4 linked regions of the Homo sapiens genome follow. The protein of the gene in region 1 purifies or fractionates together with the protein of each later gene. This does not show direct contact. Each region holds a gene or a part of one and is shown on either strand. Other genes may lie near its edges.

The links.
Region 2: the proteins of RIC3 (region 1) and NCAPH2 purify together in Homo sapiens (affinity purification with mass spectrometry; 4 studies listed by BioGRID and IntAct, with this or other methods). This does not show direct contact.
Region 3: the proteins of RIC3 (region 1) and LRBA purify together in Homo sapiens (affinity purification with mass spectrometry; 4 studies listed by BioGRID and IntAct, with this or other methods). This does not show direct contact.
Region 4: the proteins of RIC3 (region 1) and NCAPD3 purify together in Homo sapiens (affinity purification with mass spectrometry; 4 studies listed by BioGRID and IntAct, with this or other methods). This does not show direct contact.

What each region holds. Positions count from the first base shown.
Region 1 is NC_000011.10:8,166,011-8,173,599, forward strand, and holds the start of RIC3 (protein RIC-3 isoform a precursor), read right to left. Parts: upstream 3,016-7,589; 5' UTR 2,980-3,015; coding exon 2,856-2,979; intron 1-2,855. UniProt on the Homo sapiens protein: Molecular chaperone which facilitates proper subunit assembly and surface trafficking of alpha-7 (CHRNA7) and alpha-8 (CHRNA8) nicotinic acetylcholine receptors.
Region 2 is NC_000022.11:50,511,214-50,518,235, reverse strand, and holds part of NCAPH2 (condensin-2 complex subunit H2), read right to left. Parts: intron 2,517-7,022; exon of another isoform or gene 2,489-2,516; coding exon of another isoform or gene 2,462-2,488; intron 1,790-2,461; coding exon 1,688-1,789; intron 810-1,687; coding exon 754-809; intron 660-753; coding exon 575-659; intron 496-574; coding exon 427-495; intron 264-426; coding exon 184-263; intron 109-183; exon of another isoform or gene 104-108; coding exon 1-103. UniProt on the Homo sapiens protein: Regulatory subunit of the condensin-2 complex, a complex that seems to provide chromosomes with an additional level of organization and rigidity and in establishing mitotic chromosome architecture.
Region 3 is NC_000004.12:151,012,270-151,019,709, reverse strand, and holds the start of LRBA (lipopolysaccharide-responsive and beige-like anchor protein), read left to right. Parts: upstream 1-4,425; 5' UTR 4,426-4,508; intron 4,509-4,848; 5' UTR 4,849-5,067; coding exon 5,068-5,283; intron 5,284-7,440. UniProt on the Homo sapiens protein: Involved in coupling signal transduction and vesicle trafficking to enable polarized secretion and/or membrane deposition of immune effector molecules. Involved in phagophore growth during mitophagy by regulating ATG9A trafficking to mitochondria.
Region 4 is NC_000011.10:134,199,949-134,206,970, reverse strand, and holds part of NCAPD3 (condensin-2 complex subunit D3), read left to right. Parts: intron 1-238; coding exon 239-372; intron 373-1,999; coding exon 2,000-2,072; intron 2,073-2,799; coding exon 2,800-2,925; intron 2,926-3,064; coding exon 3,065-3,317; intron 3,318-3,772; coding exon 3,773-3,829; intron 3,830-4,065; coding exon 4,066-4,155; intron 4,156-7,022.

The sequences.
Region 1 (7,589 bases):
ACTCCCAGGCTCAAGCAATCCTTCCACCACAGCCTTTCAAAATGCTGGGATTACAGGCATGAGCTGTCACACCTGGTTTATGAAACCCTTCTTAAGTCCCAATAACACTGACCATTGCATACATGTCTCCATTGTTCCCTGCGCAGACTTGAGTAACTGTGACTGACACTCTTGCATTTATCTGCTAACATGTCTGTTTTGCATTTATCTGTTGACATGTCTACTTTCCTTTACTAAACTGTGGCCGCCTCAAAGCATGGAGTTCGCTCATTTTTTCTTGGAATACATAGTGTCTATACACTATGTGCACAGTATGTGATATGGTACATCATAAATATTTGTTAAAAGACTATCTTAAAGGCTTTCATGTGGAAAGGGAACTGTGCTTGTTTCATGCACATCAATGGGCAAAAATGGAAGACATAACAACATGTATTTTTAAGAATTTTCAAATACTCAGGGTTATTCCTTTCTTCAAAGCAGGGATTTCTGGGTTCTGAGAATTCTCTGAATTGATACTGAAATTCTGAGTACAATAAGAGTATGTACCTTTTTCTAGAGAGAACATACAGTTTTAGGCTGAGTGCAGTTGCTCAAGCCTGTAATCCCAGCACTTTGGAAGGCTGAGGCAGAAGGATCACTTGAACCCACGAGTTCGACACCAGCCTGGACAATACAATGAGACCCCCATCTCAACCAAAAACAAAAAAAATTTTTTTTAATTAGCCAGGCATGGTGGCATGTGCCTGTAGTCCCAGTTACTTGGGAGGCTGAGGTGGGAGGATCAGTTGAGCCCTAGAAGTAGAGGCTGCAGTGAGCTGTGATCATGACTCTGCACTCCAGCCTGGGTGACAGAGTGAGACCCAGGGAAAGGGAAAGAGAAAGGGAAAGGGGGCCAGGAAGAGAGGAAAGGAGGGAGGGAGGGACAGAGGGAGGAAGGAGAGAGAAAGAAAGAAAATACATAGCTTTTATAAGATTCTCAATGGTGTATGTAACCCCAAAATGGTTAAGATTTTTTGCTGCAAGTTTCAGTTACTGGAATGTACCATTCAAGGTAAGTTTTTTCCTAGGTTATACTACTTCAGTAGCTTCTCCTTGTCAAAAACAGAATTTACAGTATTGGTAGCTTAATAATCTTAAAGTATTTATTGACTGCCCATTATATGCCAGGTACTGAAGAAACAGTGGTAAACAAGACAAAGTCCCTACCCTTGCAAACTTACATTCTAGAAGGTGAAGACAAAAAAACAAACAAGTAAACACTTAAGAATATTCCATATCATATAGTGATGCCTATCATGAAGAATATAAAACATGATAAAATAGAGAATGATGGGAGAAAAGAGTTATTTTAGTTAGTGTCATCAGGGGAAGTCTCTCTGAGGAGGTTTCATTTGAGCAGAAATTTGAATGATGAGAAGGGCACTGAGGGAAAAGCACAGCACTTCAGGAATAAAGAGAACTGAAGGTACAAAGATCCTAACATGAGAACACTGAATACCAACACTTGAGTTCTCAAGGGAACAACCCATGTCTAATCTCCACTCTACATTTTCTACAACGTTCAGAAGAGTGTCTCCCACTCACAGTCAATAGTACTTGTTCAAGATAATTCACCATAATGGAAAGTAAAAAAAAAAAAAAAAAAGTTTTCGAAGAATCTTCACTGTTCAGGATCATCATGAATTGACTCTTCTTCAAAGTAGACAATATCATTAGACAAAGCAGGTAAAAATCTTTGGGATTATTGCAATAAGACAGAAAGGAAAAAAAAAGAACAAATACGCAAAGATGTTTTAGAAGTCCGTCCCAAGTGGATAGTCTTACAAGCATAAAGATTATCAGGCAAATTCTGTAAACAGAATTATGTGTTCAACCTGCCCTCCACCCCTAAAGCTTGGTGCTTTGCATTTATAGTGTGTATGATGCTCAAGAGAATGGAACTACAGTCAATGTGCATAAAGCAGACGGAAGTGGATTACAGTTCAAAAGGAGCTGTCCAGCAATCAACAGTTTAAACATTACTGGAAGTGTTCAGACACCGTAAAATCATGTCTCAAAGATATTACAAGGATAATTTACAGGAGAAAGTTACCAGTAGAACTTCATGACCTATAGAAAACTGTTCTGGTTCCTTCTCCCAGCCTTCAGCACCGTGCCTTTACACTCATTCTGTAAAAGGCCCCAGTGCAGCTAAGAGGATGAATTTTTAAACACCACATACATCATGCCAACAACGAAGAATTAACAGATAAATACTGTTTCAATAAGGGGAACGTAATAATTTGTTCATAACCACCTCAGTAACTGAAACTGGGGTTATTAAAATCTTCAAGATATATTTTTAAAGGCACAAGAAGAGCCTGAAGCAGTGAGCGCCCAGCACCAAGTTGAAAAAACATAACGACTTAAGGTTTGCTGTACCAATTCCATTTGCCTTGATTTCGTACCAAGCGGCGCGTCAGAAAGTACACGGAAAACCTAAAGAGGGAAACCCAACTGGGAACCCTTGACTCAAAGCACGTGAACAAATGGTGACGAGATGAGTTAAGCCAGCGGGGTAAGAGAGAAGGGACTGCGCCTAAACGGGAGTACGCAAGGCCACCTAGAGGATGCACAGACCTGCATGCATACGTTCCTGACCCTTCCAGCAGCAGAACCATCTGGGCCGCCACCCGCTGATAACAACGGAACCGTGGGCATTGGCCCTTCAACGCCGTCTCGCCCGCCCTCTCCAGTCAGTTTGGTGGATATTTCGGTGAAGGCTGCAGACTCTCAGAGTCACCCCTCCCTCAAGCAGCGTTCTCCGTACTCTTCGGCGCCGGGAAGCTCAGAGGGAGCTGGCCTGCTCTTACCTTCAGGTGTCGGCGGCGGCTCCTGCCGCTTCCCGCGGGACAGGAAGGCCTTGGGCAGCAGCAGCGACAGAGCCAGGACAAGCCCAGAAGCCAGAGCGACTCTCTGCACTGTGGAGTACGCCATGACTGCTCACGGTGGTCGCAGGTGCAGACGCCAGCCGGAACCGGAACCGGAACCGGAGCACGGGCTGCCGCTCCCGACCGAACCGCGGGCGGCGCGGACGGCGTCGCGCGAGGGACAAGGTGCGCGAGGCGCACGCATCTTCACCTCCACTGTCGGGAGTTGACCTGCTCCTCCCGCGTGGTTACCCGTCGCTGTAAATGGTACCCTCGCCTTCCCGTTCATACTAACTAAAAACTCCTCCCTCACTCCCCATGTTCATCTTTTACTGAGTCCTGTGCATTCTACCGCCTACACATCCGGCGGTCGTGCCCGGATCTCTATCCCCACTTACCACCACTGCCCCCCACCCACCCGTAGATCACAACATCCAGTTTCTCCTCATCTCCATGATCTCGCTGTCTTCCAGCTTCCACTCATGCCCCTCGCATTCATTATCCGTCTGCAGCCACAGGTGATAATGCTAAAACACAAGACTAATTCTCTTTCTCTCCAGCTTAAACCTTTTAACTCTCCATTATCTTCAGAACAATAGTTAAACTCCTTTCTATAACCTCAACGCCCTGCATGATCTGGTCTTACCAATGCTCCTTCCAAACTGGATGATTTGCTATTTCTTTAGCATATTGCTTGTCTTCAGGGAAGCTTTGCTTGTCCTGTTCCCACTGCCTGGAAAATTCCTGACACCATCTCCAGTTGTCAAAAACTTCTCTGAAGAACAGCTTAAAAACACTGCTCTCTCGAAACGTTTTCAGTCAGCCTCTCCTTTCTCTACAATCCCACCGTTCTTTGTTACTCTCTTCATTCGTTCATTTAACATTATTTTAGTTTTTACTATGTATTAGACCCTCAACTTGGCACTACAGGGTCTGATGAATAAAATGGATTCCCTTTGTAGGACAGATAATTATCCAAACAAAAAAAATGCAGGAAATATTCTGGATCCCCGAGCAGTCTTCTCAACTGGTACGAGGAAAAGTCAAGAAAAGCCCCTTTGAGAAGGTGAAATTGAGTTAGCTGTTGAAAAATGAGTAACTTATAGGCAGACAGGTGGGAGGGGTTAGAAAGGTATTCCGGAAAAAGGAGGCCAAAAAAATAAAGGCAAATCTGGAAGCTTCCTGGTGTGTTCAGAAAGCTATTGGTAATTCATTTTGGCAGGGCCATAGAGTAGTGACAGGACACGAAGTGCACAAATATAAGCAGGAGCTACATTGTGAAAAGCTTAGGTAGAACTTCCAGTTAAACATGACAGATGTAACATATGCATTTATCTTTGCTTTCCTGGGACAGTGCCCAAAAAGGAAAATAAAGAAATAAAGTATATAAACTACAAGACTAAATGCAATGATAGAAAACATGACAGCAGATGAGAAATGTCAATTTTGTAAGACGCACACAACACTGTCCAATAGACACATAATACCAGCCACATATGTAATTTAAATTTTTCCAGTAGCCACATTTAAAAAGTAAAAATAAGTAAAATTTATTTTAATAATATTTTAAACCAAGATAGCAAAAATATTTCAAATTTTATCAGCACGATAGTGTGGCTCGTTGGCGCCCACAGTAGACAGTGCAGGTGTAGAGCATAAAAAGTTAAATGCCTGTGGACTGAAAGCCTGTAAGGAGTGAACTAATTTGCCCCTCAGAACCCATGCTCTTAAGAATTGGAGGTACTGGGTTCCTTTAAAGCCAAGGGTGCAGAGTGGGTCTGAATGAAGGATTGGCTGGAAATCTGATTAAAAAGCAGTTGAGACTGGGCACAGTGGCTCACACCTATAATCCCAGGGCTTTGGGAGGCCAAGGCTGGAGGATGGCTTGAGGCCAAGAGTTCAAGGCCAGCCTGGGCAACATAGGGAGAGCCCTAATCTCTACCAAAAAAATGTAAAAAATTAACCAGGCATGGTGGTGTGCACCTGTAGTCCCAACTACTCAGGAAGCTGAGGTGGGAAGATCACTTGAGCCCAAGAGTTTGAGGCTGCAGTGAGCTATGATTGTGTGAAACCACAATTAATTATGATATATAAGATGATAATAATGCCTGAATGAAGCCAGTAGGGGCACCCACTCCAGCCAGGGTGACAGAGTGAGACCCTGTCTCTAAAAAAAAATTGTTTGATTTTTTTAAAGCAATGGATATCTTCTGAATCTCTTTCCTTGATTCATGCAGCCAGATGGGTGCCACTGCTGGCTTCACTCGGGCATTATTATCATTGATGTTATTAACATCACTAAAAGTTAGAGTACTAATTATGTTTTAGGCATCTTACATATCATAATTATTCCTCCCAATAACTTCAAGAGGTAAGCAATATTATTATATACCCATTTCACAGGTAAGAAAATGGAGCCCCAGAAAACATAATTTACTTGCCAACAATTACACAGTATAAACTGGATGCTATGATTTGAACACAGGCATGCTTACTCAAGAATTTGCCCTCTTAGCTACCAGGTTTACTGTCTGGGGAGGTTTAGTCAGAAAACCTCTGGACTCCTGGACTATAGATGCAGCTTAGGGAGGAGGTGACTAATGGGATGTGGTCTCTAAGAAATACAGAGGGGTCTGGAATGACCACACTCCCCCCCGCCCTCCGCCACCAAATTCTAGCTTGGGTAAATGGTAGACATTAATTCTATATAACATGATTTTAAGAATAGAAGAATCAGGTTTGTGAGAAAGATGAAGAGTTCAGATTTTGACTAGCTGAATTTGAAGTTCCATGAAATATCCAAGTAGAAATATCCAGTTGGATATATGGGCCTGGAGCTCAGAAGAGATGTTTGGGCTAGAAACAATAGGAAATCATCAGCCCATCTATAGTAAATGAAGTCTAGGAGAAGATGGCATTAGTGAGAGTGCTCATGTGAAGTTGTAAGAAGCCACAATGGAAACCTAGGTCACAACATTATGTTGAAGTTCCCATGTATGAGGACAGAAATGAGGTGGGAAATAGTGATCCAAGTGTTAAAATCTTTAATGAATGTGGAGTTACTACAAGGTTGGAAGGTGACAGGAACAGAAGAAGTAATGGGCAGCCAGATGACATGCTCTTCTAAGGAGCTGTGTTTTTTTTTAATTGTTTAAAAATTTTTATTTATTTATTTATTTATTTATTTATTTTTGAGATGGAGTCTTGCTCTGTTGCCCAGGCTGGAGTGCAGTGGTGCAATCTCGGCTCACTACAAGCTCCGCCTCCTGGCTTCACGCCATTCTCCTGCCTCAGCCTCCCAAGTAGCAGGGACCACAGGTGCCCGCCACCACGCCCGGCTAATTTTTTTGTTGTATTTTTAGTAGAGATGGGGTTTCACTATGTTAGCCAGGATGGTCTCGATCCTTGTTATGCACCCACCTCAGCCTCCCAAAGTGCTGGGATTACAGGCATGAGCCACAGCGCCTGGCCAGGAGCTATGGTTTTTAAAGGAAGAAGAGGAAGAAGCAATTTGGAAGCAGCAAGGGGAAACAAGTTGGGCATCTATTCTATTCCCAGGCTTTAAGCTGTGGGAAGAAAAATAGCTCTTACTTTGGGAGATCTGCAAGGGAAACAGAACCCAGAGGCAACAGCCTAGTTTTCATTAGAGGAAGACAGGCCGGGCGCAGTGGCTTATGTCTGTAATCCCAGCACTTTGGGAGGCCAAGGGGGGCGGATCACGAGGTCAAGAAATCAAGACCATCCTGGCCAACATGCTGAAACCCACCTCTACTAAAAATACAAAAATTAGCTGGGCGTGATGACATGCGCCTGTAATCCCAGCTACTTGGGAGGCTGAGGCAGGAGAATCGCTTGAACCCAGGAGGCAGAGGTCGCAGTGAGCTGAGATCGCGCCACTGCACTCCAGCCTGGTGACAGAGTGAGACTCCATCTCAAAATAAAAAAAAAAGAAAAAAGAAGAAGAAAGTTAAGAGAAACTTCAAAGAAGTCAAGGATATAGGAGTTTTTCTGATGATAGCTCTTGACTCTATACAGCACGGTAAGTGGAAGCTTTGGAAGTCAGAAATGGAGTCAAAGTAAAATATGAAGTGAGCAGGATGGAGATGAGGGGCAGTGTGCAAATTGATGACCTTGGGGGCTTGGAATTTAGATGGTGGCCAAGGTAAATGGGCAGAGATCGTGATCTCATTAGTCCTAGAAGTGGCCTAGAGAAAGGTGAAAACACAGTTATAGTACAGAGTATTTGGCTTGGAACATATTCATTGTTGCAGTCAGTTGGGATGTGCACCTGGAAGACATGGAAGCCTCCTTAAGGCGACAGAGCTGGTAGGCAGCTCATGGAGCTGGGGCAGCTTGGAGTGGGACCTGGGATGGCTGCTCTCTCTGGTGGCTGGTGGTATAACATCAGAGCTGGGAGTGCACTAAAATTGAAGATCTTAAGGGTTTAGGTTTTCCAATAAAGTATTGGTAGGGGGCTGGGCGTGGTGGCTTAGGCCTATAATCCTAGCACTTTGGGAGGCCTAGGTGGGTGGATCACCTGAGGTCAGGAGTTCGAGACCAGCCTGGCCAACGTGTTGAAACCCCATCTCTACTAAAAATACAAAAATTAGCCAGGCATGGTGGTGCATGCCAGTAATCCCAGCCATCCAGGAGGCTGAGGCAGGAGAACGGCTTGAA
Region 2 (7,022 bases), on another chromosome or scaffold:
GGGGGACATGCCCTCTGGCTCCAACATGAAGGCCCCTCTGGGGTGGGGAACGCACGTGTTCATCCTGAAATCCTTCCGGCTGGCCAGGACCTCACCCTGACGGCTGTGCTGGCAAAAACACGCCTGCTGTAGAGACCCTTCCCAGGCAGGCCTCCCTCCCCGTCGCTGGGCTCAGATCCCTACCTGTACAGGGGATTGTTGTTCTTCTCCATTTCATCAGGGGCCACCAGGGCCATGGGCAGGAGGGGGATGATGAGGACCTCCTGCATGGAGGCCAAGGGTGGGTGAGCCAGGCACCCTTCCACTCCAGTGGAGAACAGGACCCACATGGGGCAATGACACCTTCCCACACCCCATCAGCTCAACACAGCCCCAGGGAAAGTGCTGACCTCACCCCAGCCTAAGAGGGGCCAGGCCAGGACTCACACTGGGCGTCTGATCATTCTTGAGATCCACGTTAGTCCGGGAGTCAGGGAAGTCATCCAGCGACAGGAACTGGAGGGAGACAGAGCTCGTGGGGGCGGAGCCCAGGCAAACACACAGTGGGCGGGGACCACATGCCAAAGAAACTCACCTCATTCTCTGCCTCCTGGGGGACCCCGGAGCTGGCAACCCCATTGGCCCTGTCCTCCTGCACCGAAGAGAGCTGCTTGGCCCGCCTGAGAGAGAAGCACATCCCGTGGGCATCCCAGGAGCTGCAGGGGCCTCCCTGGCCACATGCAGGGCAGCACAGTGAGTGGCTGCAGAACTCACCTCTTTCCAGAGATGAAATCAAGGGCCTGGTAGACGAGTGAGTAGAGGTATTCCACCTGGTGACCAGATGCAGGCAGTGAGGACCCAGAAAGGAGGGGCCCACCCCCAAGGCCTTCCCAGCTATCCATCGGTGCCCCCACGAGGCCTGGCCACCACCACCAAACCTCCAGTACAAGAAACCACCAATTTTGGTTCCAAAAATAATTCTCAAATCAAACCAGGAATCTCATGAGAATTACTTTACCAGCTGAGGCCACCCACATCTCTCCTCTGCCCTCTATGGTCCACGCAGCCGCGAGCGTGGCCTTCTCAACGTGTGACCCTGACAGCACTGTGGTTCCCACAGTGTGCCTCATCACACGGTCCTTGGTGGTGAGGCCCCTCGTGCTTGGCACCCACTCTGCCGACGGCCTGCAGCCCTGCTGCTCCTCCGCCCGTGTGCTCCCGCCAGCATCACCCCAGCCCCTCCTCCTGTCCTGGCCCTGCCCTGTCCCAGCTCCTGCCGCCACGGGGCCTGCAGGACAGAGCCCGTCACTCACTTCCTGTCCTTCTCCTCCACAGAACAGAGGCCCCACCGTGAGGGTGGTGGTTGTGGACTTTCTAGGTGCTGACAATGAGGCACCCACAAGTAGGGGACGGGGAAGGGGAAGGTGGGTGCAGGTGGCACCCTGGGCTGTGTCCAAGTGCACACAGCAGGTGTCATTCCCCCAAGACAACAGAGCCCAACAGCACAAAAGACCCTCCCTGCCTGGCTGTGCGATTTTAAATTAAAAATTGTTCTTGGTGTTGGAAGGTGCTGAGGAATTGGCTGAGACCTGAGGAGAGAGGGAGGTAGGTCACAGACGGGACGACCACTGCACCTGCCCCAGAAGGAGAGCCGACTGTGGTCCCACTGGCCACCAAAATGCCAAGACCAGCGTCAAGCAGGGCCCACCTTCTTACTGTAGACGCAGGCAGAGCCCTGGATCAACAACGCTGCCTCAATGAAGTTCATTGTGGTCTTGCCTTCGTCAAAAGAAATGCAGATCTGATCCAGCTGCAAGAAACAACACAAAGACAGGGGGAATCCAAGGCCCAGTCTGCACTCGCTTCTTCCAGGGCAGCCCCACCCATCTTTGGTCTCTGCCCAGCACCTCCCGAGACGGGCAGCTCTAGCTATGCTGTGGGCTCACCGGTTGTCCCTGGTATTTCGGGGCAGAGACAGGTCTCTGTGTTTCCCCCTACTTCCTATAACAAAAACCTGTTTTGGAAGTGGAAGGCCCCCAGGGCACACTGTCTACAAACAACCAGGGCAGCACAGCGGCTCCCTCCACAAGGCGCCAGAGGCTGACAGACTCCAGCAGGAAGATCCCCGACACAGAGAAGAAAAGGGAACCTCAGGGGTAGGAAAGGCAGAGATAAAATGCTGAGGTCTCCATCCTCTGAGCAGAGAACTCAGGAAACAGTTACAGGTGAGTCGCCATCCTTCCTCTGCTCCCCTCAGCCTCCCGGAGCCCCAGCTCCTCTGTCACCCCTTAAACGTCAGTGCGCCAGGCGCTCCACCCCCCGCCATGCACATTCCTTCATCCCATGCCCAAGCTGCCAACCATAAGCCAATGAGCCCCAAACCCAACCCGACCAGCTCTCTCTCCTTAGCTCTGGGGCTGCATTCATAGCTGTCCACAGAGTACATTCAAATGTCCCCAAACACTTTACTTCCATACTTTACCCAACATCTTCCCCAACGCTGGCTCATCTCCTGTATTCCTTCTCAGCAAATGACACTTTAAAAAAAAAAAAAAAAAAAAGGCCGGGTGCGGTGGCTCACACCTGTAATCCCAGCACTTTGGGAGGCCGAGGCGGGCAGATCATGAGGTCAGGAGATCGAGACCATCCTGGCTAACACGGTGAAACCTCGTCTCTACTAAAAATACAAAAAATTAGCTGGGCGTGGTGGCGGGCGCCTGTAGTCCCAGCTACTCGGGAGGCTGAGGCAGGAGAATGGCATGAACCTGGGAGGCGGAGCTTGCAGTGAGCCGAGATCGCGCCACTGCACTCCAGCCTGGGCGACAGAGCGAGACTCCGTCTCAAAAAAAAAATGTTTTTGTAGAGACAGGGTTTCTCTATGTTGCCCAGGTTGGTCTCAAACTCCTGGCCTCCAGTGATCCTCCTGCCTCAGCCTCCCAAAGCACTGGGATCACAGGCATGCACCACCGTGCCCAGCCACAAACGACACTTTGAAGCCCCTAGGTGTCTTTCCAGCTCTTCAATTTTGCATTTCCATCTGCCTGGAACACCGACCCCCAGCTGTCCCCACGCAAACTCTTTTTCAGAGCCCCTCCATTCCTGGGGCCTCTGTGCCGCTCCCTTAGTGTGATCGTGTCCCTTAGTGAACTGTGTGAGCAGCATTAGTGTAATTCCAGCCTTCTGTTCAGTGCCTGACACTGGTGTCCAGTAAATATTTGATGAACACATGCATAGATAATGTCAAAGCTAAGCCTGAAAAACGCAGAGGCTCACCAGACAGATGAAGGGAACGTGAAGGCAGCTAGCAGAGACTGGACACGTCTCTTCAGGAAAATGAGCATGATCTAAACATGGCCAAAGCATGGCGCGTGCTGGGGAGAGGCAAGATTTTAGGCACCATGGTAGCACGAAGGAGTGGCAGAGGCTGGGAAGCCATCCCCAAGGGGAGTCACTTCCATTAGCTCTTGAAGGATAAAGGGTGTTTGTCAGATCTGGGAGGAAGGGAGAGGAAACAGCAGCATGGTCGTCTACGGAGTGTAAGGACCTCGGGGGTGTTCAGGACCTGAAGAGCTGGTCCAGAAAGAAGGGAACATGGAGGAGATGGCGGCCTGGAAGCTGAGCTGCAGAAGTGGCCCTTCTCTCCAGTGACCCTCAGCCTGGCTGGCTTGCCCACTCCCAAGACACTACTGGGCTTCACTTGTCTTCTCACCTCCCCAGGTTGGACCTGCCATCTGAGCCCAAACCCACATGTTCAGCTGCCTTCTTCAAACATCGCTTGGATGGCTTCACCAAGATTCATACTGAATGCATCCACACTGAACTCCAAATAGCCCCCAACCCACCTGCCCAGAAACCCAGGGGTTCCTCTCCACAGTCACCCCCATTCTGGCCCCACCACCTCCCCTTTCACCTCTGCACTGACAGGGCTCCTCCTGCCCTTCACTCCCCTCCCGTCCACTCTCCACGCTCTGCTCAGTGCCTCTGTTTAGGATTTTGGGTTTTTCCTAACAGTGGCAGGAAAAACCCAAAATCCTAAACGGAGCCAGAGGGAGGCCTCCATGCTGGCCAGCCTCCCTCTCCAGCTGCCTGCCCTCCTCTGCTCTATGGTCCCAACTTGGAACCTTCTGTTTTGTTTTGTTTTGTTTTGTTTGAGACGGAGTCTCACTCTGTCACCCAAGCTGGAATGCAGGGGCGCAATCTCAGCTCACTGCAACCTCCGCCTCCTGGGTTCAAGTAATTCTCCCTGCCTAAGCTTCCTGAGTAGCTGGGATTATAGGCGCCCGGCTAATTTTTGTAAAAACTCCAATCCTTCCAACACCAGGTTTCCTCCACCTGGAGCTAAACATTCTTTAGCTCACCATAAATAAGTAACTGCTTTCATCTCAAACAAACTAAGCCCCCCAAACTCTCCACAGGACCATACATTTTCTTTCAAATCCCTTATAAGTTTCTGGTGATTTTTTCGGTTGGTTGGTTGGTTTTGGTTTTTGTTTTTGAGACAGTCTCTCGCTCTGTTGTCCAGGCTGGAGTGCAGTGGCACAATCTCGGCTCACTGCAACCCCTGCCTCCCAGGTTCAAGTGATTTTCCTGCCTCAGCCTCCCAAGTAACTGGGACTACAGGCATGCACCACCATACCTGGCTAATTTTTTTTGTACTTTTAGCAGAGACAGGTTTTCACCATGCTGGTCAGACTCATCTCGAACTCCTGACCTCAAATGATCCTCCTGCCTCGGCCTCCCAAAGTGCTAGCATTACAGGCGTAAGCCACCTCGGCCTCCCTAAGTGCTGGGATCACAGGCGTGAGCCACCTCGGCCTCCCTAAGTGCTGGGATCACAGGCGTGAGCCACCTCGGCCCCCCAAAGTGCTGGGATCACAGGCGTGAGCCACCTCGGCTCCCCAAAGTGCTGGGATCACAGGCGTGAGCCACCTTGGCCCCCCAAACTGCTGGGATCACAGGCGTGAGCCACCTTGGCCCCCCAAAGTGCTGGGATCACAGGCGTTAGCCACCTCGCCTGGCCATCAGTTTCTGACTACACAAAGTCACACGCAGGGGTGGAGGCTGGATTCTGATCTGCCAGGAACCACTATCATTCAGAGTACATCTCTAACGCCTCTACTAACAAGGTTTTTGTGAGGACTCTGCATTCATATGTGTAAAGCACATAAAACAGGTGCTTAACACAAGTAAACACCAAATGCATATTTATTACACCCCCATGCGGTTACTCTCTTGGACCCGTCTTCCCATGACAGAGGAAGTCCTACCATAGTGGGGATTATCATTTGCTTTGCTTGGCACTATTTTTTCAAAGTTTAACATGGTTCTTGGCACACAATTCACAACTAACAACAATGAATAAATAAATGGATAAAAGAGAGTAGGATCATGACAGTACTAGAAGAACATTCTGGCCAGTGCAATGGCTCACACCTATAATCCCAGCACTCTGGGAGGCCAAGGCAGGTGGATCACTTGAGCTTGGGAGTTTGAGAACAGCCTGGGCAACACAGTGACACCCCATCTCTACCAAAAATACAAAAAATTAGCCAGGTGCGGTGGCACATGCCTGCAGTCCCAGCTACTTGGGAGATGGGAGGATCACTTGAGCCTGGGAGATCGAGGCTGCAGTGAGCCATGATTGCACCACTGCACTCTAGCCTGGGCAACAGGGCAAGAACCTATCTAAAAAAAAAAAACAAAAAAAAAAAAACAAAGGACAAAAAAAAGAAAAAGAACATCATGGTAGTGTGTGGAAAATGACAGAAGGAAAAAGATAATACTAGAAACCAGGAAATCAGGACTTCAAGCTGCAGAGGTTTGGAAGAGCAGACATAAGAAAGCAGGAAGGGAGCTGACCAAGCCAGGAAGGAGATTTACCAAGTGAACAGGTGTCCTCATGGACCCTGCTTGATGTGAAAACCTGAATCCACAGGAGCTCTGCCCAGCACAGTTCCCCGTATTTTCTCAGCCAACTATGCATGAGAGCAGAGAAGTTTGGTCATCAGATCACATGTGCATTTAACAAACACTTTAACGTCCACACCTATGTGCCAGGCACTCTACTAAGCAGACAAAAGAGGGCATAAGTATGGTCCCTGCCCTGGCAGAATTCACATTCTAGGGTGGAGACAGGCCACAAACAGGTAAATGAGTTGAAGAATGGCTTGTGGCCAGTCGCAGTGGCTCACACCTGCAATCCCAGCACTTTCAAAGGATGAGGTGGGCGGATCACGAGGTCAAGAGTTCAAGACCAGCCTGGCCAACATGGTGAAACCCCATCTCTACTAAAAATACAAAAATTAGCTGGGGCCAGGCACGGTGGCTCACACCTGTAATCCCAGCATTTTGGGAGGCCGAGGCGGGTGGATCACGAGGTCAGGAGACCAAGACCATCCTGGCTAACATGGTGAAACCCTGTCTCTACTGAAAAATACAAAAAAATTAGCCAGGCGTGGTGGCGGGCGCCTGTAATCCCAGCTACTGAGGAGGCTGAAGTAGGAGAATGGCGCGAACCCAGGAGATGGAGCTTGCAGTGAGCCGAGATTGTGCCACTGCACTCCAACTTGGGCCACAGGGCAAGACTCTGTCTCAAGAAAAAAAAAAAAATTAGCCAGGCGTGGTGGCAGGCGCCTGTAATCCCGGCTACTCAAGAGGCTGAGGCAGGATCGGACGCGGTGGCTCAGGCCTGTAATCCCAGCACTTTGGGAGGCCGAGGCGGGTGGATCATGAGGTCAGGAGATCGAGACCATCCTGGCTAACACGGTGAAACCCCGTCTCTACTAAAAAAATACAAAAAATTAGCCGGGCGTGGTGGCGGGTGCCAGTAGTCCCAGCTACTCGGGAGGCTGAGGCAGGAGAATGGTGTGAACCCAGGAGGTGGAGCTTGCAGTGAGCCGAGATTGCACCACTGCACTCCAGCCTGGGCGACAGAGTGAGACTCCGTCTCAAAAAAAAAAAAAAAAAAAAAAGAGGCTGAGGCAGGAGAACTGCTTGAACCCAGAAGGTGGAGGCTGCAGCAAGCTGAGATTGCACCACTGCAC
Region 3 (7,440 bases), on another chromosome or scaffold:
AGGGACCATACCTGGCTAATTTTTGTATTTTTTGTAGAGACGGGTTTTCACCATGTTGCCCAAGCTGGTCTCAAACTCCTGAGCTCAAGCAATCTGCCCACCTTGGTCTCCCAGAATGCTGGGATTACAGGCATGAGCCACCACCACGTCTGGCTTCCCCCTACTTGTTTTTGATATGGGGTCTTGATTGGTCACCCACGCTGCAGTGCAGTGGCAACATGACAGCTCACTGCAGCCTCGAACTCCTCGGCTCAAGTGATCCTCCCACATCAGCCTCCCCAGTAGCTGGGACTACAGATGTGTTCCACCATGCCTGGCTAATTTTTAAAACTTTTTGTAGACAGGAGGTCTTGCCATGATGGCCAGGCTGGTCTCAAGCAATCCTCCCCTCTTGGCCTCCCAAAGTGCTTGGATTACAGGCATGAGCCACTGTGCCCAGCCAAGATACCCATTCATACCAGGATTTTCCTCCCTGTCACTGCTAATAGCTGTGTAGGCGCAGACAAGGGCTTTCAGGTGAGAAAAATTAAAGCAAGTAACTTTAGAGTTTCGACTCAATCCAAATAATATGAATACCTGTAATGTGTAAAGTATTGTGCTATAAAGGAGCTTAAGATTTGAGGCAGATAGTTCATCTGGAATCATTCCAAGATTCTATGTCGTACACCTAAATAATAATCCACAATGATTGCATTTTATTTATTTTTTGAGATGGAGTTGTGCTCTTGTTGCCCAGGCTGGAGTGGCCAATCTCGGCTCACTGCAACCTCTGCCTCCTGGGTTCAAGCGATTTTCCTGCCTCAGCCTCCTGAGTAGCTGGGATTACAGGCATGCGCCACGTAATTTTTAGTAGAGATTGGTCAAGCTGGTCTTGAACGCCCAATCTCAGGTCATCCACCCGCCTCTGCTTCCCAAAGTGCTGGGATTACAGGCATGAGCCACCGCACCCGGGCCTAGTGATTGCATTTTAACTGGCTTGCCTAGAAGTGAAGAGTTTCGCCTTCTACCTTCCTTATGCTTCTTTCTGCAGTGAACCTCCAATTTTTGCCAACTATTTTGTTTTAACCATGGGCAAAGAGGTTGAAAAATTTTTATAAATAGTTGACAATTTGTGCATATATATATATATATATATATATATATATGTATTTTTTTTTAGATGGAGTTTCTGCTCTTACTGCCCGGGCTGGAGGGCAAAGGTGTGGTCGTGGCTCATTGCAACCTCTGCCTCCCGGGTTCAAGCGATTCTTCTGCCTCAGCCTCCAAGTAGCTGGGATTACAGGCACCCACCACAACGCCTGGCTATTTTTTTGTATTTTTAGTAGAGATGGGGTTTCACCATGTTGGCCAGGCTGGTCTCAAACTCCTGACCTCAGGTGATCTGCCTGCCTCAGCCTCCCAAAGTGCTGTGATTACAGGCAGGAGCCACTGTACCCGGCATTTAGAAATATTTGGTTAATTGTCTGTGTTCATTGTTTCATCAGTAGAACAGCATTAACAGTGAGCTTGCAAATTTATGAGCTACAAACCTTAGCCCTAGATCATTTAGACTGTGATCACTCTGTGTTGGGGGCATTTTCATTATTATCATCTGCTTCTTAATGGAAGACATTTATTCATTTAACAAATACTTAATTAGCACTTATATGACAGATATATTAACACACCATTTGCCCCATCTGAGGAGACAAACTCCGATGAGAGGCCTTTTAGGATTAATGCCTCACTTTAGAAATACGGATGTGTGAAAGGTCAAGTGAAAGTTGTGTCTCTTCTGCAGGCACACCCTACTCCCCCTTATTCCAGAGTTATTCATTAATGATGTGAAACAAACTTGAGGTGTTTAGTTTTTCAGAGATTTCAGAAATGGGAAGCCACTGATGTCGCCTTTTACTTTGGAAATGTGTTGGCAATTCGGATCATCAGAAAGATGTCTGCTTCATCTCTGGAATATCTAAGTCTACTTACAGAAAACAAATCTTTAACAAACATTTGCAACCACATGAGATTTGGTGCAGTTGAATTCATTTTAGTATTTTTAAAACGTGTAACACTTTTCTAAAGAAAATATCCCCTTGCTTGTTCTTCTGCTTCTTTTTTAAAAAAATAGAGACCTTGGTCGGGTACGGTGGCTCACACCTGTAATCTCAGCACTTCGGGAGGCTGAGACGGGCAGATCACCTAAGGTCAGGAGTTTGAGACCAGCCTGGCCAACATGGTGAAACCCCACCTCTACCAAAAATACAAAAATTAGGCGGGCTTGTAATAAAAATAAAAAAAATTAGCGCATGCCTGTAATCCCAGCTACTTGGGAGGCTGAGGCAGGAGAATCGCTGGAGCCCGGGAGGCAGAGGTTAAGGTGAGCCGAGATTGCGCCATTGCACTCCAGCCTGGGCAACAAGAGCGAAACTCCGTTTAAAAAAAAAAAAAAAAAAAGAGCACGGGTCTTGCTGTTGCCTAGGCTAGTCTCAAGTGATCCTCCTGCACTAGCCTCCTAAAGTGTTGGGATGACAGGTGTGAGCTACTACACCCAGCCCTCCCTTGCTTTTTGCGTCTGTTACCTTTTTCTTCCCAAATTTCCATGTGAGAGTTAAAATTGTCTTTTTTTTTTTTTTTTTTTGAGACAGAATCTCGCTCTTCCTCTGTCACCCAGGCTGGAGTGCAGTGGCAATTCTCCTGCCTCAGCCTCCCGAGTAGCTGGGATTACAGGCGCCTACCACCATGCCTGGCTAATTTTTGTATTTTTAGTAGAGACGGGGGTTTCACCATATTGGTCAGGCTGGTCTTGAACTCCTGACCTCAGGCAATCCATCTGCTTGGGCCTCCCAAAGTGCTGGGATTACAGGCGTGAGCCACCGCGCCCGGCTTCTGTCCACTTCTCAAGGCCATCTCAAATAACTTTTTCTTCAGGAAACTATTTCTCAAACCACTATAATTTTTTCCTAAGTTCTCTAGAATTCTTCCTTTGTTTAATCCCACTTTTTGCTTCACTTTCATTTTAGGAGCTAGGCGTATTTTTAAAAAGGCCCTTTGACCTCAAAGGATACACGTGGGTGAAAAACCACCTTCCTCTAAATTTATTTTTCACTCACTAGGAAGAATGGTTTACTGTTAATAGCGGGTGGAAAGAAGGGACACTGAGTATGAGGACCTATCTGTACTACCTAATATAATTTATCTTTTGATCTACTCTGAGAATGACGCGAGCCTAATCTTCACATTGGAAAATCACGAGAGGAAAAAACCCTTCGGAGGTCTACAGGCACAAGGAACCCTGTCTCCACGCTGTTTATAGCAGCTGTCTCAGGAATCCTCTGCCTAGAATGAATGTGGGAGAGGTTTCGTGGCGCGGCAGCTGCAAAGCAAGGAATCTTTCCCATTCCTCGTCGACTCGGTCCCCTCCCCTCCCCTCCCGAATGGCGGCAGCTGCCGAGGTATCCCAGTGGAAATCTCCAAGTCTCCGCCGAGAGCGGCGGGCGGGCAACAGCTGAAAGCAGCCAGGGGTGGGGACTCCTCGCTCCCATTGGGCAGGGACAGCAGCCTCACTGGCTCCAGCGCCGTCACCTCTCTGGCTCGTAGAGGTGCCTCAGGTGTTCTTCTCCAAGTCCAATGAGACACCTAGGCAACGCAGCGCGTGTTCCCTCCGCGCCAAGAGACCCTACGGTAACTTAACAACAGCAGGAGCGCCAAAATCCCCGCCTCAGGACTTGGCAGAAGCACCTCCCGAGGTCCGAGAGTGGGAGAGGGGAAAGTGTAGGCCCTCGGACGGAAGGGTCTCTCCTCGCCGGGCCGGGTACACACCTGGTGCTACCAGAGCAGCGCGCCTAGTGCAGCCGGAAGCCCCAGCCCAGCACTCCGGCTGGCTCGGGGCCCCCTTGGCTGTCCGCGCGTCGTCACCGCGCCCCCGCCGCGCGGCTGCCTCCGCCTTCGCGCCCTCCCGCCCCGCGCACTCGCGCTCGCGCACGCGCACGCCGCGCCCGGCAGCACTCGGCGCTGTCATGGCGGCCGGGAGCAGCTTCAGTGGGCACACGACAGCCGCGCGACCCGTGGCGGGGCGAGCTGTGGCAGTAGCATCCTCACCACTCGCAGCAGCCTCAGCCGCGGCGCCCGTAGCGCCAGCAGCGGCTGCTTTTGCAAAGGCTGAGCGCAGGGGCGGGGCGGGCCAGGAAGCCATGGAGTTCTGTGCAGCCGCGGACTCCCGGGGAGCGGACTAGGGAAACTTGGAGGCTGCGACCAGGTGCACTGACCTCTCTGTCCTCCCTTCTCTCCCTGCGGTGGCCGCTGGGTTTCTCTGGCCGCTCCCCTCCCTTCCTGCCACCACACACACCTCCCCACCCCTTCCCGTCGAATCTCAGGTGCCTGAGAGAGGTGCTTCACTCCTCCCACTGGGCCGAGCATTTAGAATAATCACCGCCCCCTTCCCCCGCCTTTTCCTGCCCTGGATCTCCGCCGCCACCTCGGTCTCGCTGCTCCTGGGCGGGGGGTGAGGACGAGTCCGGAGTATCTGGGTGAGGAAGAACTTTCTACCTCTGTGATAGCTTGTGGGCCCCCCTTCTTTCCTCCGATCCCTCCTTTCCCCGCGACAGTTTCTCTTTCTAGTGCACCTGTGAGGAGAGGTTACCCTGCGCCTAGAACCTGCACGAGAGTGGGGGAGGAGTGAGCCTGTTCGGGGGCCTCTTGGACCTGCCTTCACCCAGAACCCAGCTTTTTGAGCCCGGGAGAAGCGGGTGGCTAGTAGTGGGGTGCCTTTAGTAACTTACTTGACCGACAATAACTATTTCCCTCTTGTCCCCTCAAAACCCTAAAACAAAACCTAGCCTATTTAACATATATTTAATCTTCCAATAGGGTTTGGCGTTGTTGTCAGCCTCGGGGAGAGAGATTGGACAAATATTCTCCAAGAGGAGGAGGGCGACGCCAAGGACTTTCCACATCAACTGCTTTGGGGTATCTCCACAAGTTGGAAGAGGGACCCTTTCGTTTTGCATTGCGTGTGTTGTGCTCATTACCAGTGCAGCGACTGCCGTCCCAGGGTGACTCTGAGTTGTCCTTTATCGTGAGCTAGCAATGGCTAGCGAAGACAATCGTGTCCCTTCCCCGCCACCAACAGGTGATGACGGGGGAGGTGGAGGGAGAGAAGAAACCCCTACTGAAGGGGGTGCATTGTCTCTGAAACCAGGGCTCCCCATCAGGGGCATCAGAATGAAATTTGCCGTGTTGACCGGTTTGGTTGAAGTTGGAGAAGTATCCAATAGGGATATTGTAGAAACTGTCTTTAACCTGGTAAGTCCATGAATATTTTATAAGCATATACTCTTTTCAGTGGGTTGGGGAACAAGATCTTAAAGCTGGAGCCATGTGGTTTACTCACACTGATGGTGACTTTTTTCGTGTATAGGGACACAAAATTCTACTCACCTAAATGAAACAATTTCATCTGTTTTTTAGATTGAAGGGAATTGTGCAAACTTAGATGATCCAGGTTTTGTGAAAGTGAACACATCACTTTTGTGCTAAGGAAATAATTGTTGCTATGGAAGTATTGGGGGGAGGTTCTAGCGGAGGAGTTATCTCTAATTTTTTTTTTCTTGGCTTGTATGCCTAAGTCTGCGTTTCCCTTTACCACTTTAAATAATTTCTTGTGACCTTTTTTTGGACTTGAGAATTAATGTCTTTGATTCTGTCGAAGTTATGTTTTGCTACAATAAGTTTAAAAATTTGTTTGTAGTGCTGATGCAAGATTAATTTGCTGCAAAGTTAGTATTTTTAATTTTGACTAGTTTTATTTTTAGACATAACTAACAAAAGTTAAATTGGTGATGAATTTAGGATTGCATTTAAAGTAATCTTGTGAAAATTGAATGGCAATATGAAAAAAGGAATTGAAGCAGATACAGTATAATTTTTATGTGTTTTATAAATTCATGTCTAGCAGGAAAGCATAGTTAGTCATTGGAAGTTGCTGATTATACTAAGATGAGCTATGAATGCTTTTTTTCGGGTGGGGGTGGGAGGGGGATGAGGCCTCTCTATGTTGCCCAGGCTGTTCTCAAACTCCTAAGTTCAAGCTATCCTCCTGCTTCAGTCTTATGAGTAGTTGTGGCTATAGGCATGCATCACTGTATAGGGCTTAAATTGTTTTTAAATTGAGGTATAATTCATATATTATACAATTCTACCTTTAATTAATTCATTAACTTATTTATTTAGAGATGAGGTCTCACTCTGTTGCCTAGGCTAGTTTTGAATTCCTGGGTTCAGGCGATTCTCCCCTCTTGTCTCCTAAGTAGCTGGAACTACTGGCATGCGCCATTGTGCCTGGCTTGGTTATCATTTATAATGGAGACTTTTTAGATTTCTTTATTCCAGCCTCTCTTGCCCATCAACTTAAAGAATCAAAAGGAAATCTGGCCCTAAAATACTTCCCCCTTTTCTACCTACCCACCTGTGTTAGAGGATAACAGGACCAAATATAAACATGCAGTTAATTGTAATAACTGTTTAGCACCTTTCCCTTTGCCTCTTTTCAAGGTTAGGCTTGTTTTATTCTGGGGCAGTTAATTATTTCTTTCACTAGACCTTCTCTAATGGTCTGGTCACCTGCAGTACAACTTCTAGAATAAGAAAGTAGCTAGATGGAATTCTGGCCGGGCGTGGTGACTCACGCCTGTAATCCCAGCACCTCAGGAAGCCGAGGCGGGCACATCACTTGAGGTTAGGAGTTTGAGACTGGCCTAGTCAACATGGTGAAACCCCATCTCTACTAAAAATACAAAAAAATTAGCTGGATGCGCTTGCTTGTACCCAGGAGGTGGAGGTTGCTGTGAGCCGAGATCGTGCCAATGCACTCCAGCCTGGGTGGCAGAGTGAGAGACTGTTTCAAAAAAAAAAAAAAAAAAAAGAAATTCACTTACTTTTGAAGAATGAAAGCTTTGAACAATTGGATATTTCTATGTCAGTTTATTGGGAGTTTATGTATAAACACCTATAGACACACACATGCATATTTTAAAAAACTGCATATTATGGAAATGTTCAAATATATGCAAAAATAGAATAGTATAATGAACTCTGGTATCCGTTGTGCAGCTTCAACAGTTGTCAACATTTTGGGGATCTTGTGTGTGCGCATGTGTGTGGGGCTTTCATATGTAAGTCTGAGGAAGATAAATGGTAAATTGATTGCTTTACCTCAAAATAGACTTGAAACATTTCCTTTCTGATTTTTTGTTCTTTTTTAAAATGTCATATGCCTTCAGTGAGAAACAGAAATTTGTGGTAGTAATATAATCCATAATTACTTATTTGTGTGTGAAGACACAACATCTTTTGGCAGAAGGAGGATTTGAACTCCTGTTCTTTAGAATGTGCTGTGTTGGAGTGGATGACCAAACGTGAGTCATTTGCATTTTTATCATTAAAGAAAATCCAAATTCTATA
Region 4 (7,022 bases), about 130 Mb from region 1:
GGTATTGTTTTTATCAGACATATCATCTGTCAGCCATTCTTTCACACTGTTTACATTGTGCATTTATTGTATCCCTGCTCATTGTTTAAGAAATATATCCCTAGTGTTCAGCCAGCAATTATGCCAGCCTGACCTACCTTCAGATGGCTTGAAATGGTTTACTACAGTCTGCATCACTATGTCTGAGACCCTTGTGTTCTCCATCCGATCTTAAATTGAATTTTCTTTTCTCTTCTAGGTCATCAGTTGTGTTTTCCATCAAATGCTCAGTGTAATATTAATGTTAGAAGTTGGTGAAGGATCCCATCGTGCCCCCCTTGCTGTTACCTCCCAAGTCATCAACTGTAGAAACCAGGCGGTCCAGTTTATCAGGTGAAGCACACAAATCGTGAATTTTCACCCTGTCAGTCTCCCTCAGTACTCTGGGCCCTGCACTAAGATTTCTGATACATGTAGACTTAAAATTTCTGGCCTGATGGTGGTTTTGGGGGTGAAAACCAAGCACTTCGTAGCTAATGTGCTTTATGTGTCTGGGTCTCTGTTGGTAGGCTCCCAGCTGGGGCACTGTTAAAGAGATAGGAATCTGCAGAACACGGGCCAGCGCCAGCCTCCAGCTTGTTTGCGCTCAATATGTGGGTCAGCCTCAGAGAGAGGATGGTGGCCTCTCCTCCTTTCCCTTGTCTGCTTCATTGCAGCCAGTTCACCTCTTTCCCTTTTCTGTTGCTCTCTACTTTGCAGCTCTTTGCTTTTGTTCTTTGCCACTTTCTTCTTGTTTCTTTGCACTTTTCTATTCCTTTCCCTCTGTAGAAATGACTTGAAGGAAAGGATTGAGTTGCTTTTTACCTCCGTAGCAATAAGTGTTAGACTACTTTTCCTCTCATGGGTCACTCAGCTTCACTTAAAAACTCTCATGCCTTAGTTTCACTGGCAAGGACATGTTTGCTGCGTTGTTGGCTTTTCCTTCCCTCCTTCACTGATTTTTGGCGTGCAGTGTGGAGGTGGTGCCGAGACATGGTGTGCATGTGCAAGTGTGTGCATGCCTTGGGTGTGCACAGTGTGCAGGGTAGTTGGAGACATGGGGTGTGTATGACGTCATCTTGTGACTGAGCAAATGTCTCTCACTAAGGACTTTTTAAAACATTAAGTAACTAAAATGTTTTAAGTGAAAACACGATCGTTTCGTTTTTTCCATGAGAGTTTCTCATATGCCAGTCGCAATAGTCTTCATGTAATGTTACAGATAAACATCACTAAAAATGGATCAAGTCTGGGCATTGTAGAAATTTCTTCTTGAGGCGGGGCGCGGTGGCACATGCCTGTAATCCCAGCACTTTGGGAGGCCGAGGCGGGCGGATCACCTGAGGTCAGGAGTTGAAGACGAGCCTGGCCAACATGGTGAAACCCTGTCTCTACTAAAAAATACAGAAACTAGGCGTGGTGGCGGGCACCTGTAATCCCAGCTACTCGGGAGGCTGAGGCAGGAGAAACTCTTGAACCCGGTGGGGGAAGTTGCAGTGAGCCGAGATCACACCATTGCGCTCCAGCCTGAGCGACAAGAGCAAAACTCCATCTACAAAAAAAAAAAAAAGAAATTTCTTATTGGGTTAAAGTTTGGAGAAGTAATGTTACTAATGCATTTCACTGAGCTACCATGAGGTGGTACTGTGTCTTAGTCAATTTTTATATTTATCCCCAAAGGATATATTTTACATCTTCATATGAAATTTAGTAAGTAGTCAAAAGAATTGTATGAAGATTACATTTTTGTTCTTACCTGATGACTTAGCTACTCTGCAGCAGCTCTCAAAACTGCACGGGAACTACTTCACAGTTTTCTACGATGACATTTTATGTCTTCACTCTTCATTCTACTGAAACCACTCTTATAGCGTGAGGTAGAGTGTTTTAATAACTAGGATTTCTAAATATAGGAGTAGTGGTTTTTGGGGACAGTCGCTGACTGTATTGTGAACAGTAGATGTGTTTTTCTTTTACAAAGCGCCCTTGTGGATGAATTAAAGGAGAGTATATTCCCAGTCGTCCGTATCTTACTGCAGCACATCTGTGCCAAGGTACTGTTTGCCTTAGTAATATTAATAACATGGAAGTATATCGTGTGTGAAGATAAATGTGTGTGTGTGTGTGTGAGTGTGGGTATTTGTTCTTGGGAATGAGTGTGCATTGTTACTTAAAGTGGTTTTATTTAATGTTCACTAGATGGTCCCCTAGACAAAAGTGTTCTATAAAAAACAAAAAAACAAAAAAACTTTGTTTTGGAAAAATGTTGAACATACACACAGAAACAGGGAAAATAGGCTGGTGAACCACCACATACCCATCACCGAGTTCCACAGTTTTGTGTCACTTAAACCCCTACCCCACATCCCCCAACATGTGTATACTGGATTGTGTTTTGAAGCAAATTCCATCATATCCTTTCACGGTAATTCCTTAATATTATCAAACATCCAGTGTTCAAATTTCCATGATGATCTCTACATTTTTATAACCATTTAGACAAATGATTCTTAATTTGAACCTTATGAAACCTGGGGATCTAAAAACTCTCTGAAATTGTATACTAAATTTGTATGTGCATTTTTCTGGAGAGATGGTTTATAGATTTCCTTTAGATTAGTTTTGAAGTGTTCTAAAACCTAAAATTTATTAGTCATTTACGTAACATTTAAAGGTCATTGAACTAGTTGTACTCACTGACTTTCAACTTATATTACAGAATATGTTTCAGCCATCCTGCGGGTGGATATTGGTTGGTCAACTTCTCTTTTTGCTTTTCAGGTGGTAGATAAATCAGAGTATCGTACTTTTGCAGCCCAGTCCCTAGTCCAGCTGCTCAGTAAACTTCCTTGTGGGGAATACGCTATGTTCATTGCCTGGCTTTACAAATACTCCCGAAGTTCCAAGGTAGGAGATAGCTCTGCATAAAACCTTGGGTCCTTTTTAAACTCTTTTTAAAAGGGTCTCTTTTTCTAGGTCTGAATGAGGAGGGTTCTTTGGTTCTTACTCCTATCTGATGGCAATTCTTATGATCTTGCTTTACCAGATCCCACACCGGGTTTTTACTCTTGATGTTGTCTTAGCTCTGTTAGAACTGCCTGAAAGAGAGGTGGATAACACCCTCTCCTTGGAGCATCAGAAGTTCTTAAAGCATAAGTTCCTGGTGCAGGAAATTATGTTTGATCGTTGCTTAGACAAGGCGCCTACTGTCCGCAGCAAGGCACTGTCCAGCTTTGCACACTGTCTGGAGTTGACTGTTACCAGTGCGTCGGAGAGTATCCTGGAGCTCCTGATTAACAGTGAGTATGGCGACTATTGGGACAGTAAACCGGTCTTGTGCTCATTGAGAAATAGACTGCAAGGGAATCGTTCTTTTCTGTGGCAAAAGTAATAGGTATGGCATGATCTATTTTTACTCTCAAAACCATTTTTAGTATATTTTCTTGCCAAATAACTTTTTAAATAGGCAAGCCTGATACATTTGCAAGGCCTTTTAAAAGTATTTCAGATGTTCATATCTGAGAGGTGACATTGGTGGCTACCTTTACTGTTGCTTTGCATTGGTGGGCATTGGTCGTATTAGGATGAATCTCCGTTTCAATGCATACCCAAGGAGAACGTTATCAGTTGTCAGCAATTTAGAATCTGTCTGCCTTGTCTTTGAGCCTAATTATCTTGATTTTGATTCCTCCGTGGATAATTACTCAGTTTATGATACTGACTTCTTCCTTCTTATCTTTCTTCTTGTTTTTAGGTCCTACGTTTTCTGTAATAGAGAGTCACCCTGGTACCTTACTGAGAAATTCATCAGGTAATGGATCAATACATTTTCAAATATTGAATGATTATCTTTTAAAAATTTGTGGAATATTTAAAATGTTTTTCTTACCTCCTTATTTACCTGCTTTAACATTGTACTTTTTTCATGAGAGAGGTTGAAATTCATTTCAGTAATAATGTTGTAACTTAAATGAGTAACATGCCCTGCTAATGTTATTAAAAGTATAACACATTTTTAGCTTAATGACTGTAATTTTTTTTTTAAAGCTTTTTCCTACCAAAGGCAGACATCTAACCGTTCCGAACCCTCAGGGGAGATCAACATAGACAGCAGTGGTGAAACAGTTGGATCTGGAGGTATGTCAGATTTTATCACTGTCAGATAGGTAATACTGCTGGATTTCAGACAACCGTAAGTAGAGTCTAAAACCTTGGATTTTTTTTTTTTTTTCTGATTTATTCACCCCTAAGAGTTGAAACAGCTGGCTGGGCGTGGTGACTCATGCCTGTAATCCCATAATCCCAGCACTTTGGGAGGCTGAGGCCTGCAGATCACTTGAGCCCAGGAGTTCAAGACCAGCCTGGGCAACACATCAAGACCCCATCTCTTAAAAAATATATATAAAAATCAGCTGGGCGTGGTGGTGTGCCCCTGTGGTCCCAGCTACTCAGGAGGCTGAGGTGGGAGGATGGCTTGAGCCCAGGAGTTCCAGGCTACAGTGAGCTCTGATCATACCACTGTACTCCAGCCTGGGCGACAGTCTGTTTAAAAAATTAAAAAATGAAAATAACACTGCAGGGCAGTCTGCTTTTTTGTACCAGCTTAGTTACTAAATAGCTGCATGATCTAGGGGTATACCTGTCGTTTTCCGGTTGTAACACCCTCCCATCTTTCCCAGACGACTGTTGGGAAAGTCTGTAGAAACAACATTTAAGAAAGTGATTTAAAGAGAGAGAGACACAGATAAGAGAGAGAAAGAGCATGTACGTAGAGGATTAATTACATAATTGGGTTTATTAATTTATTCAATAAACCTTGATCTGGTCCTTCCCGATGCGTTCCAGGCATTGGAGATGCACAAGTCTGTGAGACAGAGCTCCATCTCTTAAGGATCAGTGGAGAGACAGGTGCTTGTGCACACAAGTGTTCTCATATATACAATTGTGCACACATGTATGCGGAACACTGAGATAGGTGCCGAGATGCACAGAAAGCGCCCTGAGGATGATTACATTACTGCTTTTATTATTCAGCCTAGAAGGTCAGCGTGAAATTGGGTTCAGGAGGCTAGATATTAGCATGTATTACTCCAATTCAGAGCGATAACTACATTTATAATAAACAGGTTTTCTAAATGTGGTAGGAAAATGTACTCTGGAAAAATGCTGAATGTTTGTGTTGGCTCCAGACTTCGTCTAAACAGGTTACGGATTTACGGTGGCACAGACTTTTTCAAGCAATATCAAGTTGAGGTGATTTAATGATGCTTAAAAATTATGAAAGTTCGGGGACGCAAAGAGCCCATGTTTCCAGTGCATTGTTCATAAGCTGAAAGGACATATATTGTTGGCATTAATTGTACATTAAAAATTTTGTATAGTCACTTAGATGCACTTTGCTCTCTTTGCTTTTTCTTATTAAGGCAGAGTTCACACACCATAAAGTTCACCATGGAAAGTGTATAATGTAGTTGTTTTAGTATAGTCACAAGATTGTACAGACTAATTCCAGAACATTCCATCAGCTGAAAAATAAACCCCATAGCCATTAGCAGTCACTCCCCATGCCCCTTTCCTCCTAACACTGGCAACCAGTAATTTTCTTTCCTTATAAAATTGCCTATTCTGGGCCAGGCGTGGTGGCTCACACCGGTAATCCTGGCACATTGGGAGGCCGAGACGGGAGGAGGATCACGAGGTCAGGAGATCGAGACCATCCTGGCCAACATGGTGAAACCCCGTCTCTACTAAAATACAAAAAATTAGCTGGGCGTGGTGGCACACACCTGTAGTCCCAGCTATGAGGAGGCAGAGGCAGGAGAATCGCTTGAACCCAGGAGGTGGAGGTTGCAGTGAGCCGAGATTGCGCCACCGCACTCCAGCCTGTTGACAGAGCGAGACTCTGTCCAAAAAAAAAAAAAAAAAATTGCCTATTCTGGACATTCCGCATAAATGCAGTCATGTACTGTGTTGTCTTTTGTGTCTGACTTCTTTCACCTATAGCGTGTTTTCAAGGCTCATTCATGTTATAGCATCTATCAGTACTTCATTCCTTTTTGTGCTGAGTAATAGTCAGTTATAAGGATACACCACATTTTGTTTATGCATTCATCAGTTGATGAACATTTGGGTTGTTTTCACTTTTTGGCTATTGTGACTAATGCTGCTGTAAGTATTCTTGTATGAGTTTTTGTATAGATGTGTGGTTTCATTCCCTCTGAGTGTATACCTAGGAGGAGAACTGCTGGGTCGTATGGTAACTCTATATTCAACATTTTGAGGAACCACCACACTTTTTCAAAGTGGCCACACCATTTTACAATCCTGCTAGCAACGTATGATAATCCTATTTCTCTGCATTCCTACCAACACTTGCCATGTCTGTCTTTTTTATTTTAGCCATCTTTGTGGGTATGAGGTGGTATCTGCTTGTGGTTTTGATTTACATTTCCCTAATGGCTAATGATGTTGAGTAAATTTTCATAGGCTTATTGGCCATATACATACGTTTTCTTTGGAGAAATGTCTATTCAAGCTCTTTGCCCATTTTTTAATTGGGTTATCTTTTATTTTTGAGTTGAAAGAGTTATTTTTATATATATACCTTATCAGATATATGATTTTTAAAGACTTGTCCCAGTCTGTGGGTTGTCTTTTCAAATGGTATTCTATGAGGCACAAAACATTTTAATTTTGATGAAGTCCAATTTATCTTTTTCTTTTTTTACTCATGCTTTTGGTATCACATAGCTAAGAAATCGTTGTGTAATCCAAAGTCACAAAGATTTACTCCTGTGTTTTCTTCTAAGGGTTTTATAGTTTTAGCTCTCACATTTAGGTCTTTGATCAATTTTCAGTTAATTTTTGAATATGGTGTGATATAGGGGGTCCACCTTCACTCCTTTGCATGTGACTATCCAGTTGACATAGCACTGTTTCTTTCAGCCTGTTCCTTCACCTGTGAGTGTCTTGGCACCCTTGTAAAAAAATCACTTGACTGACTT